Linked DNA regions of Homo sapiens: region 2 is linked to region 1. Evidence: fine-mapped expression QTL. Tissue or cell type: fibroblasts. Region 1 holds a variant in brackets; the other region holds the start of a gene. All regions are shown on one strand. Distances are from middle to middle.

Region 1 (8,101 bases):
TTCCCTTGAGAGTCAGAGGTCACCCGTGATTCTGCCTGCACCTTATCATTGATCTGCAGTGATTTCTGCAAATCAAGAGAAACTCTGCAGGGCACTCCCCTGTTTCCTAAGAACGAAAAAGTGCAATAAAGGCCATTCGTTACCTACTTTTCAGCAGCCCACAAGATGTAGCACTATTAGTGTCCCCCTCAGAGGCTTAATGTTGCCTGTGGAGCAGTGCCCATCCCAGCCCGTTTCTGCCCACCAGTTGTTCTCAGGAACCTTACCCATGCTCCAGCGTCCTTCACCTGGCACAGGACATGCAAGATAAATAGGGCAGGCACGTGTTTGGGTGTCCTCTCTTTTCTGATAAAATCCATCCCGTGTTTGCCACACGCCCTCCAGTCCTCAGTTCCCACTGCCTAACGTCTGCCCCCGTGTAGATACTGAGAGGTGGTGGCAGTAATTGTGGCCTTATCAGCCGCTCAGTTCCAGGCTTTTGCCCAGGTCACTGTTGCCCCATGTTCGGAGAACCTGGCCCACCTGTCTTGGCTTTCTCATCCTTCCCAACCCAGTGCCGTTTATTTCAGAAGCTTCCTGGCCACTGGGCTTGGATGCTTCGGGCTTCTGACTGCTCCATAGGTTTTGACTGGTGAAACAGGGGCCCAGATGACAACCTCTCCTTCGCTCCACAGGTACGCGGGAGCCTCAGGTTCTCTCAGGGGCAGCAAAGTGGCCCAAGCTGCCCCTGACAGCACAGGGCCTGGGGGGTGGCTAACGAGAGAGGCCTTACAGTGCCGGCATGCCTCCTCTTCCACTGTCGTCCTTCCTCAGAGGGCCTCACGCCAAACAAACGGCCTTTTCGTGTGAAACATCTTCAGGGCGGGAAAGGGGCCACTTCTGGCTTTGTTAGCAATAACTGACCTTCAGTTTACCCTTCTGAAGGAGCAGGGACTCAGCACAGAATTCACTTTAGACGGGGCTGAAGGAGTGTCCCTCCTCTATGTGAAAAGAAAATTGTTTTATTCTTCATTCTGACTTTTTAACTGTTTGGCTCACTTCCAGTTAGTTTGAATGAAAATAATAATTTTCTACTTGGAGTTGAAGAGGGCAGAATCCGCAGCTCTCATCATTGTGATGTGTAGCATGTCTGCCCTCTGACTGGACATCATTGCCATTAACTTTCTTCTGGGCATCACGGCAATGTCACGATGCCCAGACTTGGAGCAAGGCAACCTTGGAGTCAGTCCACTCATAAAATATGGTAACACCCATTTTAAAATTTAAGTTTTGTCCTTAAAGACAACTTCAGTGGTTAATTATAAAAGTTGTGTTACTTCGTCCTAAATTAAATTGATAGAAAGATTTAAAAATGTGTTTTGTTTCTACTATTCAGAAACTGCGAACTAGGGAAAGGTTGGTATGAAGAAATGTCTTTCCTTTTTTCAATGTACATAGTTCAACTCTTTCTTTGTTACATTTAAACTATATCCATGGATATCAGTCTGCTTTGGACTCCTCTGCTAGTGTTACAGATGGAAATAAAACCATTAATTTGAACCAAATATCTTTTACACATTCATTTGCTCTTTGGAATCAATTTCCCCCCTTTTTGCCAAGGTGCGGGGTTCTTATCTGCCTCACGTTGAGTGTATTTTGCATTGGTGTGTGTTCAGGAAGTTTCCATGTCCTAAATCCAGCAAGCATGTGAGAGGCTGTTCTTGGAGCACAGCCACAAGCCCAAGCCCTGGAGTCCCTAAGAGAGCAGAGTCTACTCTGAGAGGCAAGGTTGACCAAGGAGCTGTCTGCTCAGCTCGGCCAGTCTCTCAGAGGTGCTGGGGGTGCTGCTCTGAGTGGGATGGACTGAGATTGCCCTGGAAACCTTGCACTGCAGCACCCCCCTTTGCCCCTGACCACCTAGATACAAAATTTGCCCTCTGAGTGGGAGTCAGCACTGGGAGTGCATGGATATGCCAGCCACTGCCACAGGCGAGCAGTGCCAGCAAAGCCACAAGGAGGGAATGGGCTTGGCAGTGTGGCCAAGCTCTCCCTTTGCCTCTGCCCTCTGTACCTATCCAGCTGTCCCCAGGGACTAGAAAGGCTAACATGCTGGCTGCCTGGGTCCCAAAGGCCTACCATCCAGTGCAGTTTGCTTACCATGCTCCTGGCACTGCACTTTTGGCTCTGTGGGCAGTGAGACAGACATCATGGAACATGTTTACAGAGGAGACAGTCCCCCAGGCCACTGGAAAATTGAAACTGATGAGGGTGGGGTACGGGAAACCAGGAGATCCAGCAGGAAGAAGTTGAAGCTGTCCAGAAAGCTCTCTCTGAATAAGGGCTGCTAAGTTGCCATCTTCAAGGTCCAGAAAGCTCTCTAGGGAAAGAGGAAAGAATTCCAGAGACCCCAGGCCAGGCCTGTGAAAGTTATGAGAAAGAGCTTCTTGCTGGCATACAGTAGGGTCTGCAGGCTCCCCGATACCTAAAGGCATTGGACCAGACACTTCTGGTGGCTACCCAGGGCCTGGCAGTTCTTTACCCCAGGAGCAAGCCTAGGGGAGGCAGGGAGCAGTGTATCCCTAAGACTGGTACTGCTGGAGTGGGTCTGGTCCTGGAAAGGAGGGAGCCCCCAAGGCTGGCTATAGAAACTCAAAAGATGTCTGTATTAACTTTTTCGGTGGGGGGGTGGTTTTGTTTTGTTTTGGCAGCATAGAAACAATTGATTCTCTATATTGTGTATCCAGAATCCTTGCTATTTTTTTTTTTTTCCTAAGACGGAGTCTGGCTCTGTCGCCCAGGCTGGAGTGCAGTGGCTCGATCTCAGCTCACTGCAACCTCCGCCTCCCAGGTTCAAGCGATTCTCCTGCCTCAGCCACCCAACCAGCTGGGATTACAGGGACGTGCCACCATGTCCAGCTAATTTTTGTAGTTTTCGTAGATACGGGCTTTCACCATGTTGGCCAGGCTGGTCTCAAACTCCTGATCTCAAGTGATCCGCCCGCCTCGGCCTCCCAAAGTGTTGGGATTACAGGCGTGAGTCACCACTCCCAGCCCCAACTCTATTTTTTTTTTCTTTTTTCTTTTTTTCTATTTTTGTAGAGACGGGGGTCTCATCACGTTGCCCATCCTGGTCTTTAACTCCTCGCCTCAGGCGATA[C/T]TCCTACCTCAGCCTCCCAAAGGTGCTGGAATTAAAAGTGTGCGCCACCGCGCCCAGCCTAGCCCAGTACATTATTATTACACACAAATGGTGTTTGTGTTTTAGTGTTTCATCAAGAAAGATGTTTGCTGTAGGTTCTAGTTAGATAACTGTCAGATGAGGGAGGTTCATTTTCCTACCATGAGATAAGCATTTATCTTTTTTTTTTTTTTTTTGAGACGGAGTTTCACTCATCGCCCAGGCTGGAGTGCAGTGGTGCAATCTCTGCTCACTGCAGTCTCCGCCTCCTGGGTTCAAGCAATTCTCCAGCCTCAGCCTCCCGAGTAGCTGGGATTACAGGCATGCACCACCATGCCCGGCTAATTTTTGTATTTTTAGTAGAAACGGGATTTTACCATGTTGGCCAGGCTGCCCTCAAACTCCTGACCTCAGGTGATCCGCCTGCCTCGGCCTCCTCAAAAGTGCTGGGATTACAGGCATGAGCCATGACACCTAGTGGCATTTGTCTTCAATTTCTGTTTTTTGTTTTTGTTTTTTTTTAACGAGACAGATTCTTGCTCTGTTGCCAAGGCTGGAGTGCAGTGGCACAATCTCGGCTTACTGCAACCTCCACCTCGGGGTTCAAGCGATTCTCCTGCCTCAGCCTCCTGAGTAGCTAGGCATGCACCAGCACGCCTGGCTAGTTTTTGTATTTTTAGTAGAGACAGGGTTTCTCTATTTTTGTTTTTGGTCACAAGTGAATGTTCAATCTTACCAGTCCTTTTTCTGCTTCTATTGAGACAAGATTTGTTTGCCTCTCTAATCAGTTAATGTATTGGGTAACATAGTTATATGTTGTTTAACTACAGGGATATGTTCTTTTTTTTTTTTTTTTTTTTTTTTTTTTTTTTTTTTTCCAGAGACAGATTTTCACTCTGTCACCCAGGCTGGAATGCAGTGGCATGATCTCAGCTCACTGCAGCCTTCACCTCCCACATACAAGCGATTCTCCTGCCTCAGCCTCCAGAGTATAGCTAGGATTACAGGTGTGCACCACCATGCCCAGCTAATTTTTTCTGTTTCTAGTAGAGACAGAGTTTCACCATGTTGGCCAGGCTGGTCTCGAACTCCTGACTGCAAGTGATCCACCCACCTCAGCCTGCCAAAGTGCTGGGATTACAAGCGTGAGCCACTGCGCCCCACCTTACAGGGATATGTTCTGAGAAATGTGTTGTTAAGCTGGGCTCTGTGGCTCACGCCTGTAATCCCAGCACTTGGGGAGGCCGAGGTGGGTGGATCACGAGGTCAGGAGTTCAAGACCAGCCTGGCCAAGATGGTGAAACCCGTCTCTACTAAAAATACAAAAGTAGCTGGGTACGGTGGCAGGCGCCTGTAATCCCAGCTACTTGGGAGGCTGAGGCAGGAGAATCTGTTGAACCTGGGCAGCAGAGGTTGCAGTGAGGCAATATTGCGCCACTGCACTCCAGCCTGAGTGATAGAGTGAGACTCCATCTCAAAAAAAAAAAAAAAAAGACAAAAAGAAATGTATTGTTAGGCAATTCTGCTGTTGTATGAACATTGTACAGTGTAATGTGTAATTAAACCTAGATTGCAGAGCCTACTACACATCTAGGCTATGTGATATAGCCTACTGCTCTGGGCTACAAACCTGTACATGTTACTGTACTGAATACTGAAGGCAGTTGTAACACGATGGTAAGTATTTGTGTATCTAAACATAGAAAAGGTACAGAAAAGGCAGGGCGTGGTGGCTCATGCCTGTATTCCCAGCACTTTGGGAGGCCAAGGCAGGCAGATCACCTGAGGTCAGGAGTTCGAGACCAGCCTGACCAACATGGAGAAACCCCATCTCTACTAAAAATACAAAATTAGCCAGGCGTGGCGGCACATGCCTGTAATCCCAGCTACTCAGGAGGTTGAGGCAGGAGAATCGCTTGAATCTAGGAGGCAGAGGTTGCAGTGAGCCGAAATCATGCCATTGCACTCCAGCCTGGGCAACAGAGACTCCATCTAAACAAAAAAAGAGAAAAAATGGAGGCTGAGTGCAGGGGCTCACACCTGTAGTCCCAACACTTTGAGAGGCAGATGTGGGAGGATGGCTTGAGCTCAGGAGTTCAAGACCAGCCTGAGCCACATAGTGAGACCCTGTCTCTATTATTATTATTATTATTATTTTTTTTTTTTTGAGATGGAGTCTCGCTCTGTTGCCCAGGCTGGAGTGCAGTGGGCGATCTTGGCTTACTGCAAGCTCCACCTCCCAGGTTCACGCCATTCTCCTGCCTCAGCCTCCCAAATAGCTGGGACTACAGGCGCCCGCCACCACACCTGGCTAATTTTTTGTATTTTTAGTAGAGACGGGGTTTCACCATGTTAGCCAGGATGGTCTCGATCTTCCGACCTCGTGAGCCGCCTGTCTCGGCCTCCCAAAGTGCTGGGATTACAGGCGTGAGCCACTGCGCCCAGCCATGTCTCTATTATTTTTAAAAAATAACAATTAAAAACAAAAACCGTGTACATTAGCCTAAGTCTACACAGGGTCGGGGTCATCATCATCACTGTTTTCCACCTCTTCCTCTTGTCCCACCAGAAGGTCTGTAGGGCCGATAACACGTGGAGCTCTCATCTGCGGTGACGGTGCCTCTGGAATACCTCCTGAAGAACCTGTGAGACTGTTTTGCAATTGACTTCTTTTTTTTTTTTTTTTTTTTTTTTTTGGAACAGCATCTTGCTTTGTCACCTGTGTTGGAGTGTGGTGGCACAATCATGGTTCATTGTCATTGCAGCTTTGACCTCCCGGGCTCAAGTGATCCTCCCACCCCAGCCTCTCAAGTAGCTGGGACTATAGGCACCAGGCCTAGCTAATTTTGTTTATATTTTACAGAGGCAAGGTCTCACTGTGTTGCCCACGCTGGTCTCAAAGCAATCCTCCTGTCTTGGCCTCCCCAAAGTGCTGAAACACAGGTGTGAGCCACTGTGCCAAGCCTAACCTTTTTTTTTTTTCTTTTTTTTTTTTTTTTTAATAATAGAAGGGCCGGGTGCAGTGGCTCACGCCTGTAATCCCAGCACTTTCGGAGGCCGAGGCACGTGGATCACCTGAAGTCAGGAGTTTGAGACCTGCCTGGCCAACATGGTGAAAACCCATCTCTACTGAAAATACAAAAATTAGCCAGGTGTGGTGGTGCACACCTGTAATCCCAGCTACTCGGGAGGCTGAGGCAGGAGAATAGGAGAATAGCTTGAACCCGGGAGGCAGGGGTTGCAATGAGCCAAGATCACACCACTGCACTCCAGCCTGGGCGACAAGAGCAAAACCCCATCTCAAAAAAAAAAAAAAAAAAAATAATAATAATAATAATAATAATAATAGAGTACAATCTTAAAATATAATGACTAAGCCAGTAACATAGTCACTTATTAAGTATGTACTGCACATAAATTATATGTGCTATAACTTTATACAACTGGTGGCACCGCATGTAACAATGTACTACAACATGACAGCTAAGCTGTCACTAGGCAATAGGCATTTTTCAGCTCCATTATACTCAACGGGACCACCATTGTGTATGTGGTCTGCTGACTAAGGTCTACAGCAGCACATGACTGTATTTGATTTTCTAGCAGACACTATACTTGCATTTCTCTGATAACTTCACCCTATTCATGATACTTTGTCCTTCTATATGTTTGTTTGTTTGTTTTTGTTTTGTTTGTTTGTTTTTTTTGAGATGGAGTAGCTGGGATTACAAGCACCCGCCACCATGCCCGGCTAATTTTTGTATTTTCAGTAGAAACGGGGTTTCACCATGTTGGCCAGGCTACTCTTGAACTCCTGACCTCAGATGATCTGCTGTCCTTGGCCTCCCAAAGTGCTGGGCTTACAGGCGTGAGCCACCATGCCTGGTCACTACTGTACATTTCAAGACCCCCAGTGGATGCCTGAAACCTCAGTACCAAATTGTATATATATTGGTTTTTTCTTATACGTATGTACTTACACATGATAAAGTTTAATTTACAAATTAGGCACAGTAAGAGGTTAGCAACTAATAAAATATTGTATATGTAGTACTTTTTTTTTTTTTTTGAGATGGAGTCTTGCTCTGTCACCCAGGCTGGAGTGCAGTGGCATGATCTCTGCTCACTGCAAACTCCGCCTCCTGGGTTCCAGCAATTCTCCTGTCTCAGCCTCCTGAGTAGCTGGGATTACAGGCGTGCACCACCGTGCCCGGCTAATTTTTGTATTTATAGTAGAGATAGGGTTCACCATGTTGGTCAGGCTGGTCTCGAACCCCTGACCTCGTGATCCACCTGCCTCGGCCTCCCAAAGTGCTAGGATTACAGGCGTGAGTCACTGTGCCCAGCGCAGTACTTTCTTTTCCAGTGTTTTGTGTGTGTTTTGTAGAGACAGGGTCTCACTATGTTGCCCAGGCTGGTATTGAGCTCCTGGCCTCCAGCAATCCTCCTGAATATGGTCTGAAAATATTTCATTGTAGTGTGTGCTATGAGTAACTGTGTTCTCAAAGCAAAAACATAGAAAGCGGTGTACTGCTGTATTATATTTTAAGATTCATTAATGTTTGTAGTTCATTTTTCTCACTGTATATTATTTTATTAGATGGATATGCTTCAATTTATCCACTATTTGGGTCATTTAAGTTTTGGGGCTAGGCCGGGCGCGGTGGCTCACGCCTGTAATCCCAGCACTTTGGGAGGCCGAGGCGGGTGGATCATGAGGTCAGGAGATCGAGACCATCCTGGCTAACAAGGTGAAACCCCGTCTCTACTAAAAATACAAAAAATTAGCCGGGCGCGGTGGCGGGCGCCTGTAGTCCCAGCTACTTGGGAGGCTGAGGCAGGAGAATGGCGTGAACCCGGGAAGCGGAGCTTGCAGTGAGCCGAGATTGCGCCACTGCAGTCCGCAGTCCGGCCTGGGCGACAGAGCGAGACTCCGTCTCAAAAAAA
Region 2 (8,101 bases), 49 kb before region 1:
AAGCTACTCCCCCAAAGGGGGCCAGCCAGAGTGAGATATGGCCCAGCTAGTGCTGACAATCCCTCTCTGAACCTTTCCTGGCTGGACTGCCTGGGGAGTGGACATTTTGCCTGAGTACAGGCTAGTCAGAAGATCCTTGTTGATAGCATCTGAGACCCACTTGGGCAGGGGCTTTCTTTGGAAATAGTGAAGAAACAGATTTAGTAGCTGGTGTGAGGCCCAGGAACCTGCATTCAGCTGGTTTCGACTTGTGGGACTATGGGAGCACCAAGGTGCCGGTCTTTTCTCTAAGCTGCAGGCGTTCAGGGCCCAAGGGAAGCGCTATTTGTGAAGGAACAAGTTCAGTGCAAGTGAGGCTTGGAGAAGACTTGAAAGCAGCTTTTGTTTTTGTTTTTGAGGCAGGGTCTCGCTTTGTCACCCAGGCTGGAGTGCAGTGACGTGATGATAGCTCATACAGCCTTAAACTCCCGGGCTCAAGTGATCCTCTTGCCTCATCCTCCCTACTAGCTGGGACTGCATGCACTTACCACCATACCCAGCTAATTTTTTATTTTTAGTAGAGATGAGGTCTCACTATGTTGCCCTGGCTGAAGGCAGTCTTTGAGCATGAAACTGGTATTTATAGAGACTTTTTCAACATCACATCTTCAATATATTACAGTTACAAACAGAAAACCCTAACTTTTCCTTAGGCTGTAAAATACAAATTACTAATATTACTTTTTCTAAATCTGATTTTTTTTTTTTGAGAGAGAGAGGGTCTCATTCTGTCAATCAAGCTGACGTGCAATCACAGCTTACTGCAGCCATGACCTCCTGGGCTCAAGTAATCCTGCTGCCTCAGCCTCCTGAGTAGCTGGGACCACAGGGACATGCCACCACACCCGGCTAATTATTATTTGTGTGTGTGTGTGTGGAGAGGGGGTTTTACCACGTTACCCAGGCTCATCTATAAACTCCTCAGCTCAAGCAATCCTCCCACCTCAGCCTCCGAAAGTGTTAAGATTACAGGTGAGAGCCACCATGCCCGCCCTAAATCTGATCATTTTTAACCACCATTTTGATTAATCATGTACGGCCCCATTTATGAACTGAAATTCTCTTAAACATTTTCAACTGCATTTATACACGTAGAATCTAATTTTATTTTTTAGCATTTCAGTTGTCTGCCTTATCAAGTATTAATATTTAAATAATTCTCATAGATATATTAAATGTCTTCATTTCTTTTAAACTTTTAAGTTCTCTTTGCTCCAATTATAATCACAAACTTCGGAAAATGTTATACCTTTCAACTTACAGTCGCTATCAAAAATCAAATACTTAGGGCAGGGTGTGATGGCTCATGCCTGTAATCTCAACACTTTGGGAGGTCGAGGTGAGCAGATAACTTGAGCCCGGGGCTTCAAGACAAGACTGGGCAACATGGCGAAAGCCAGTGTCTACAAAAAAAAAATACAAAAAAATTAGCCAGGCATGGTGGCACACACCTGTGGTCCCAGCTACTCAGGAGGCCAAGGTGGGTTGATCATCTAAACCTGGGGAGGTCGAGGCTGCAGTGAGTGAGTCATGATTGTGCCACTGCACTCCAGCCTGGCTGACAGAGTGACACCTCGTCTCAAAAAAAAAAAAAAAAAAAAAGACTGGGTGCGGTGGCCCACGCCTGTAATCCCAGCACTTTGGGAGGCCGAGGCGGGTGGATCACGAGGTCAGGAGATCAAGACCATCCTGGCTAACACGGTGAAACCCCGTCTCTACTAAAAAATACAAAAAAAAAAAAATTAGCCAGGCGTGGTGGCGGGCGCCTGTAGTCCCAGCTACTTGGGAGGCTGAGGCAGGAGAATGGCGTGAACCCGGGATGCGGAGCTTGCAGTGAGCCGAGATCGCGCCACTGCACTCCAGCCTGGGCGACAGAGCGAGACTCCGTCTCAAAACAAACAAACAAACAAACAAAAAACACAAATACTTAGATATTTTACATGAGAATTACATTTATCTATCAGATACTCTACCATGCCAGATTTCCTTACAATTACGAAAAATAGCAAACACATATTGTTTGTAAATGCAACACAAAAACGTTAATGCTCTGGTTTCTATCTGCCTTGTCATTCCGTTATTTGACTCCATTTTCGAGGTTAGAAACTCACTGTAAGGTGGCCGGGCGAGGTGGCTCACACCAGTAATCCCAGCACTTTTGGAGGCCAAGGAGGGTGGATCACCTGAGGTCAGGAGCTCGAGACCAGCCTGGCCAACATGATGGAACTCCATCTCTACTAAAAATACAAAGAAAATTAGCCGGGCGTGGTGGCAGGCGCCTGTAATCCCAGCTATTCGGGAGGCTGAGGCAGGAGAATCACGTGAACCCAGGAGGTTAGAGCTTGCAGTGAGCCGAGATCGCGCCACTAAAACAAACAAACTCACTGTAAGGAAACAATGTAACCCAAGGCATTTGGGGTGACCTTCACGTTGCCTGAGGGTGCCGAGGGACCAGAGATGCTGGCCATGGACTAAGGTCTGGGTATTCTCAGGCAGCAGGGACAAGGTGGGCTTTTTTCCTGGTTGCTAAACCCACGTCAAAGTCGAGCTCAGGGACTGGAGCTCAAGAAACCCACCGCCCATTCTCCAGTCCGACCGGGGACCTGCATGCACCTCTGCCGTGCTGCCCTGAGTCCTCCAATCCTCCACACTCTTCCTCTGTTATGTACACGTCTCCACCCAGGCCTGCAAAAGTCCCAGCTTCCTCGCAGGGGCAGGGACCCGCACGCCGGCCCAGGGCTTGGCACGCGGGGATGCTGAAACAGGGCCAGGCCTGGTTTCCAGCCGATCGTCAGAGTCCCAAGGCCCAGCAACCTTCCTCACAAAGGCCTCGTTAAGAGGCGAGGAAACAAGAGCCGGGAGAGGGGCGCGGAACGGCGGGCGGGACGAACGACCAGCTCCGCGCCTCCGGCCAGCTGCGTCGAGCCAGGGGCACCGCGGCTGTTGTGCGGCTGGAAATCTAGGAATGGGAAGGTTCGGGGCCTGCTCGGCTCCGGAGGCAGCTGGCGGGTCGTCCCTGGCGGCGTTGGAGCGGTCAGTGGCAGCCGGGCACGGGCGACCGGGTCGCCCGGGTCGCCCTCAGACCGTGACTCCCGAAAAACCTTGCGGGCGGGGCGCGCCCGCGCCGTCTCTTGCCGGAAGGTGCGAGTTAGTGCGCTCGATTGTGGGCGGGGGCGGAAAGAGGCGCGTTTTAAAGTGGTAACAGATGGTTTTCTTATCCAATAGGATTAAAAAATTTGTCCTTACCCGGCCGACCGCGGAAGTAGAGTAGGCGGGCGGCCAATGGGGACATGATGGGGGGCGGAGCCGAGGCCTCCGAAGCGGAAGTGGGTTGCTGTTGAGGCGGCGGCATCTTTCTCGAGGAGCTCTCCTGGGCGGCTGAAGAAGGAGCTTCTTCTCCGGAGTGCGCCGGCGGTGGCGCCTGCGGACCTAACTAGCTCCAGGTTAGGCCGAGCTTTGCGGGAAAGCAGCGGTAAGTCAGGGCCTTGCAGATGCGAGGTTTAGGCAGCTTCGCGGCCTACAGAGGCCTCGGCCCGCGCCTCTTGGGGGAGCCGCGCTGCGCGGCTTGACCCAGCCGAGGCTTTGCAGCCCGGGACCTCGAGCCAGCTCTGGTCGCTCGCACTGCCGTCCGCGCGGGCGCACCGAGCCCGGCTTGGCGCGGGCAACAGAAGTTAGGAGGTCTGCGTCTGGGTCTCGGCTCACCCTGGGGGGCCGCGGCCATGGGGCTTAGTTCCTAGCCTAGGAAGGGAAACTGAGACTCTGGGAGGGGCAGGAACGCCCCCAAGGTCACTTGGAAAGTCGGGCAGGATGTGCTGTTAGGGGGAAGACCCGGGCAGGGTTTTTGTTCCCCGCTGACGACGCCTCCTTTGTGTGTTCGCGCCGCCGCCCCGCCATCGTGGGGCCTGCGAGTTTGCCGGGGTGCGTGGGCCGCGTGGCGGGGCCTTTTGTAGGTCGGGAGGATCTGAGTACGGGTGCGGGCCTGACCGTGGGGGCGCCGAGGTCGCAGTCTAAAACTTAGTAGGGCCTCGATTTCCGGGCGCGCTTCCGGGCCCCGGCTGGTGGTTGGTGGAACGTGCGACTGTGAGGCTTGCGGCCCAGCCCTGCACCGCTCGGGCCCTTCACCGCTCTGGCGCGCCTATAGACAGGTGTATGAAGATTCTCACGACCCGAAACAGAGTTGCTAGTAAACACCGCTTTTCCGCCTTTGATCCATCGAGGGAAGAGGGAAAAGGATAGAGCTTGGGCAAGCCGTTTTGGTAGGGATTTCAGCTTTTGTCTTTCACTTGTCAGTTCCCATAGACGTTCACAAACTTAATAATCTTCGTTCTGTTTCTGCACCAAGTTCTTGAGCCAGACGTAGGGTCTCAGCTCTGGAGCCTGGCTTAGACTGTCCAACTGACTGGGGAGACTGAGGTCCAGAAAAGTGAAGTGGTCTGCCCAAGGTCACATAGCCAGCTATTTGGCAGCAGATGAGGTTAAGTCCTACCTGCAAGATTTGGGTTTTGAATTCATTGACCAGGAGTTTTGGGACCACTGTCAATAAAAGAGACATTGAAGGGAATCTTTTGTTACTTTCTTGGTGATTTGCTTTTTAATGGACAAGGACATATTGGGTTCAGTTTTATCTGTGAGTTTGAGGTGAAATAGAGGCATTCGAGTAGCAAGATATATTGCTGGCTTTTGTATTGCCTGAATTTGAGCTTCCAAAAATCTTACTTTAACACATCGTTTATTGATCTTTTCTTGAATTACTACCTTTGTAAGGACCTTTTGTAAACATTGTTTTTCTAATCTTCATGAAATCTTAATGCCATACGTAAACTATTTCTTTTTATATAATGTATGCACATCTGTGCTTTGTACATAAAATGAGTAAGATTTTTCACTCTCCTCAAGATCAAAGTAGCGTATTTTTGAGGTCTCCTGTATGCCAACCTTTCTGCTTGGAATACAGCAGTAAACAGTCGTGGTCCTCCTGTAGCTGGGTGAGGATGGAGGGAATAAGAGATAACTCATTTTATTGTGTTTTGCAAATACTGCCTTTTTTTTTTTGCAAGGTGAAGGTTTATAGCAAGGATTCATCGAGCAAGTCTGTAAATGCCAGCCATTTTTCCAACAGCATGTGCTCACTTTGTGTCTCTTGTGTCACGTTTGGGTAATTCACAATATTTCACACTTTTTTTTTTTTTTTTTTTTTGAGGTGGAATCTCACTCTGTCACCCAGGATGCAGTGCACTGGCGTGTTCTCGGTCTCACTGTAACCTCTGCCATCTGGGCTCAAGTGATTCTCCTGCCTCAGCCTCCGGAGTAGCTGGGATTACAGGCATGTACTACCACACCCAGTTAATTTTTGTATTTTTAGTGGAGACGGGGTTTCACCATATTGGCCAGGCTGGTCTCGAACGCCTGACCTCAAGTGATCCGCCTGCCTCGGCCTCCCAAAGTGCTGGGATTACAGGCATGAGCCACCATGCCCAGCCCCAAACCTTTTCATTGTTACATCTGTTATAGTGACCTGTGATCAATGTTTTGGGTTACCATGAATAGCACTCATATAAGACAGTGAACTTAATTGGTAAAAGTTGGGTGTGTACTAACAGCTCCACTGACTGGCAGTTCCCAGTCTCTCTCCTCAGGCCTCTCAATTCCTTGAGACACAATATTGAAATTAGGCCAGTCAGTGACCCTACAGTGTCCAGGCAAAAGGAGCAGTCAGTTGAATCTCTCTTACTTTAAGTGAAGTTAAGAAATGTTTATCCTTAGTGAGAAAGGCGTATCAAAAGTTGAGATAGGCCAAAAGCTAGGCCTCTTGTGCTGAATGACAGTTAGCCAAGTTGTGAATGCAGAGGAAGAGTTCTTGAAATTAAAATGCTACTCCAATGAATACATGAATGATAAGCCAAACAGCCTTATTGCTGATAGGGAGAAAGTTTTAGTGGTCTGGATAGAAGATCAAACCATCCATGACATTCCCTTAAGCGAAAGCCTAATCCGGAGCAAGGTACTAACTCTCTTCAATTCTGTGAAGAGTGAGGAAGCTGCAGAAGAAAAGTTTGAAACTGGCAGAGGTTAGTTCATGAGGTTTAAGGGAAGAAGCCACCTCTGTAATGTAAAAGTGTAAGGTGAGGCAGTAAGTGTTGATGAAGAAGCTGCAGCAAGTTATGCAGAACATATAGCTAAAATAATTGATGAAGGTGGCCACACTAAACAACAGACTTTCAATGTAAATGAAACAGCCTTATATGGAAAAAAAAATACTATCTAGGACTTTCATAGCTAGAGAAAGGTCAATGCCTGGCTTCAAAGGACAGTCTGATTCTCTTGTTAGGGGCTAGTGTGGCCAGTGACTTAAGTTGTAACTAGTGCTCATTTACCATTCTGAAAATCCTAGGGCCCTTAAGAAGTATGCAAAAATCTACTGTGTGCTGATCATTGAAACAGGAAAGCCTGTATAGTAGCATATCTGTTTACAGTATGTTTTACTGAATATTTTAAGCCCACTATTGAGATCTACAGCTCAGAAAAAAAGATTTCTTTCAAAATATTACTGCTCATTGAGAATGTGCTTAGTCACCAAAGAGGTCTCATGGAGATGAGTAAGATTAATGTTAACATCTGTTCTGCAGCCCATGGATCAAGGAGTAATTTCAACTCTCAAATCTTACTTAAGAAATGCATCTTGAGGCTGAGCACAGTGGCTCATGCCTGTACTCGCAGCACTTCGGGAGGCCAAAGCTGGTGGATCGCTTGAGCTCAGGAGTTAGAGACCAGCCGGGGCAGCATAGTGAGACCACCCCCTCCACTGCCAGTCTCTTAAAAAAAAAAAAAAAAAAGGGCGGCAGGGGGAAAGAAAGAAATGCATTTTGTAAGGCTACAGCTACATAGATTGTGATTCTTCTGATGGGTATCAACAATGTAAATTAAAAACCTCCTGAAAGGATATACTATTCTAGATACCATTAAGAATATTTGTCTCCAGGCACGGTGGCTCACCCGTGTAATCCCAGCACTTTGGGAGGCGAAGTGGGCGGATCACAAGGTCAGGAGATCGAGACCATCCTGGCTAACATGGTGAAACCCCATCTCTACTAAAAATACAAAAAATTAGCCGGTCTTGGCAGCGGGCACCTGTAGTCCCAGCTACTCGGGAGGCTGAGGCAGGAGAATGGTGTGAACCCGGGAAGAGGAGCTTGCAGTGAGCCAAGATAGCACCACTGCACTCCAGCCTGGGCAACAGAGCGAGACTCCATCTCAAAAAAGAAAAAAAAAAAGAATATTTGTGATTCATGGGAGGAGGTCAAAATATCAACATCAGCAGTTCACGGTGGCTCACGCCTGTAATCCCAGCACTTTGGGAGGCTGGGGCAGGCAGATCACCTGAGGTCAGGAGTTTGAGACCAGCCTGCCCAACATGGTGAAACCCCGTCTCTACCAACAAAATACAAAAATTAGCCAGGCATGGTGGCACGCTCCTGTAGTCCCAGCTACTTGAGGAGCTGAGGTAGGTTAATCGCTTGGGCCCAGGAGGTGGAGGCTGCAGTGAGCCGAGATTGTGCCTCTGCACTACAGCCTGGGCAACAGTGAGATTCCGTCTTAAAAAAAAAAATCAATTAACACAACAAGAACTTGGAAAAAGTTGATTCTGACCCTCATGGGTGACTTTGAGGGGTTCTAGACTTCAATGGAAAAAGTAACTGTAGATGTGGTGGAAATAGCAAGAGAACTAGAATTAGAAGTAGAGCCTGGCCGGGCCTGGTGGCTCACGCCTGTAATCTCAGCACTTTGGGAGGCCTAGGCGGGTGGATTACGAGGTCAGGAGTTCACAACCAGCCTGGCCAGATGGTGAAACCCCGTCTCTACTAAAAATACAAAAAATTAGCAGGGCGTGGTGGCGCACGCCTGTAATCCTAGCTACTCTGGAAGCTGAGGCAGAGAATTGCTTAAACCTGGAGGGGCAGAGGTTGTGGTGAGCCGAGATCACACTACTGCACTCCAGCCTGGGCGACAGAGCGAGACTCTGTCTAGAAAAAAAAAAGTAGAGCCTGAAGGCTGGGCCTGATGG

What was found. PIP is the estimated chance that this variant, and not a neighbour inherited with it, causes the effect.
Region 2: RNF4 starts here. The variant in region 1 is fine-mapped to the expression of RNF4 in fibroblasts (GTEx, PIP 0.91).

Annotation. Positions count from the first base shown.
Region 1 is chr4:2,514,314-2,522,414 of GRCh38, forward strand. It overlaps RNF4 (ring finger protein 4), which reads left to right. Exons shown (of 8, transcript NM_002938.5): 8 at 1-1,544. Among named protein-coding and RNA genes, the nearest start is that of FAM193A, 18 kb to the right of the region's middle. The variant C/T (reference allele first, on the strand shown) is at 3,137.
Region 2 is chr4:2,465,748-2,473,848 of GRCh38, forward strand. RNF4 (ring finger protein 4) reads left to right here and starts at 3,359. Exons shown (of 8, transcript NM_002938.5): 1 at 3,359-3,511. LOC107986250 (a long non-coding RNA gene) reads right to left here and starts at 3,204. Exons shown (of 2, transcript XR_001741551.3): 1 at 2,653-3,204. RefSeq lists a silencer at 2,902-3,071 and enhancers at 3,222-3,581, 3,265-3,837, 3,882-4,001.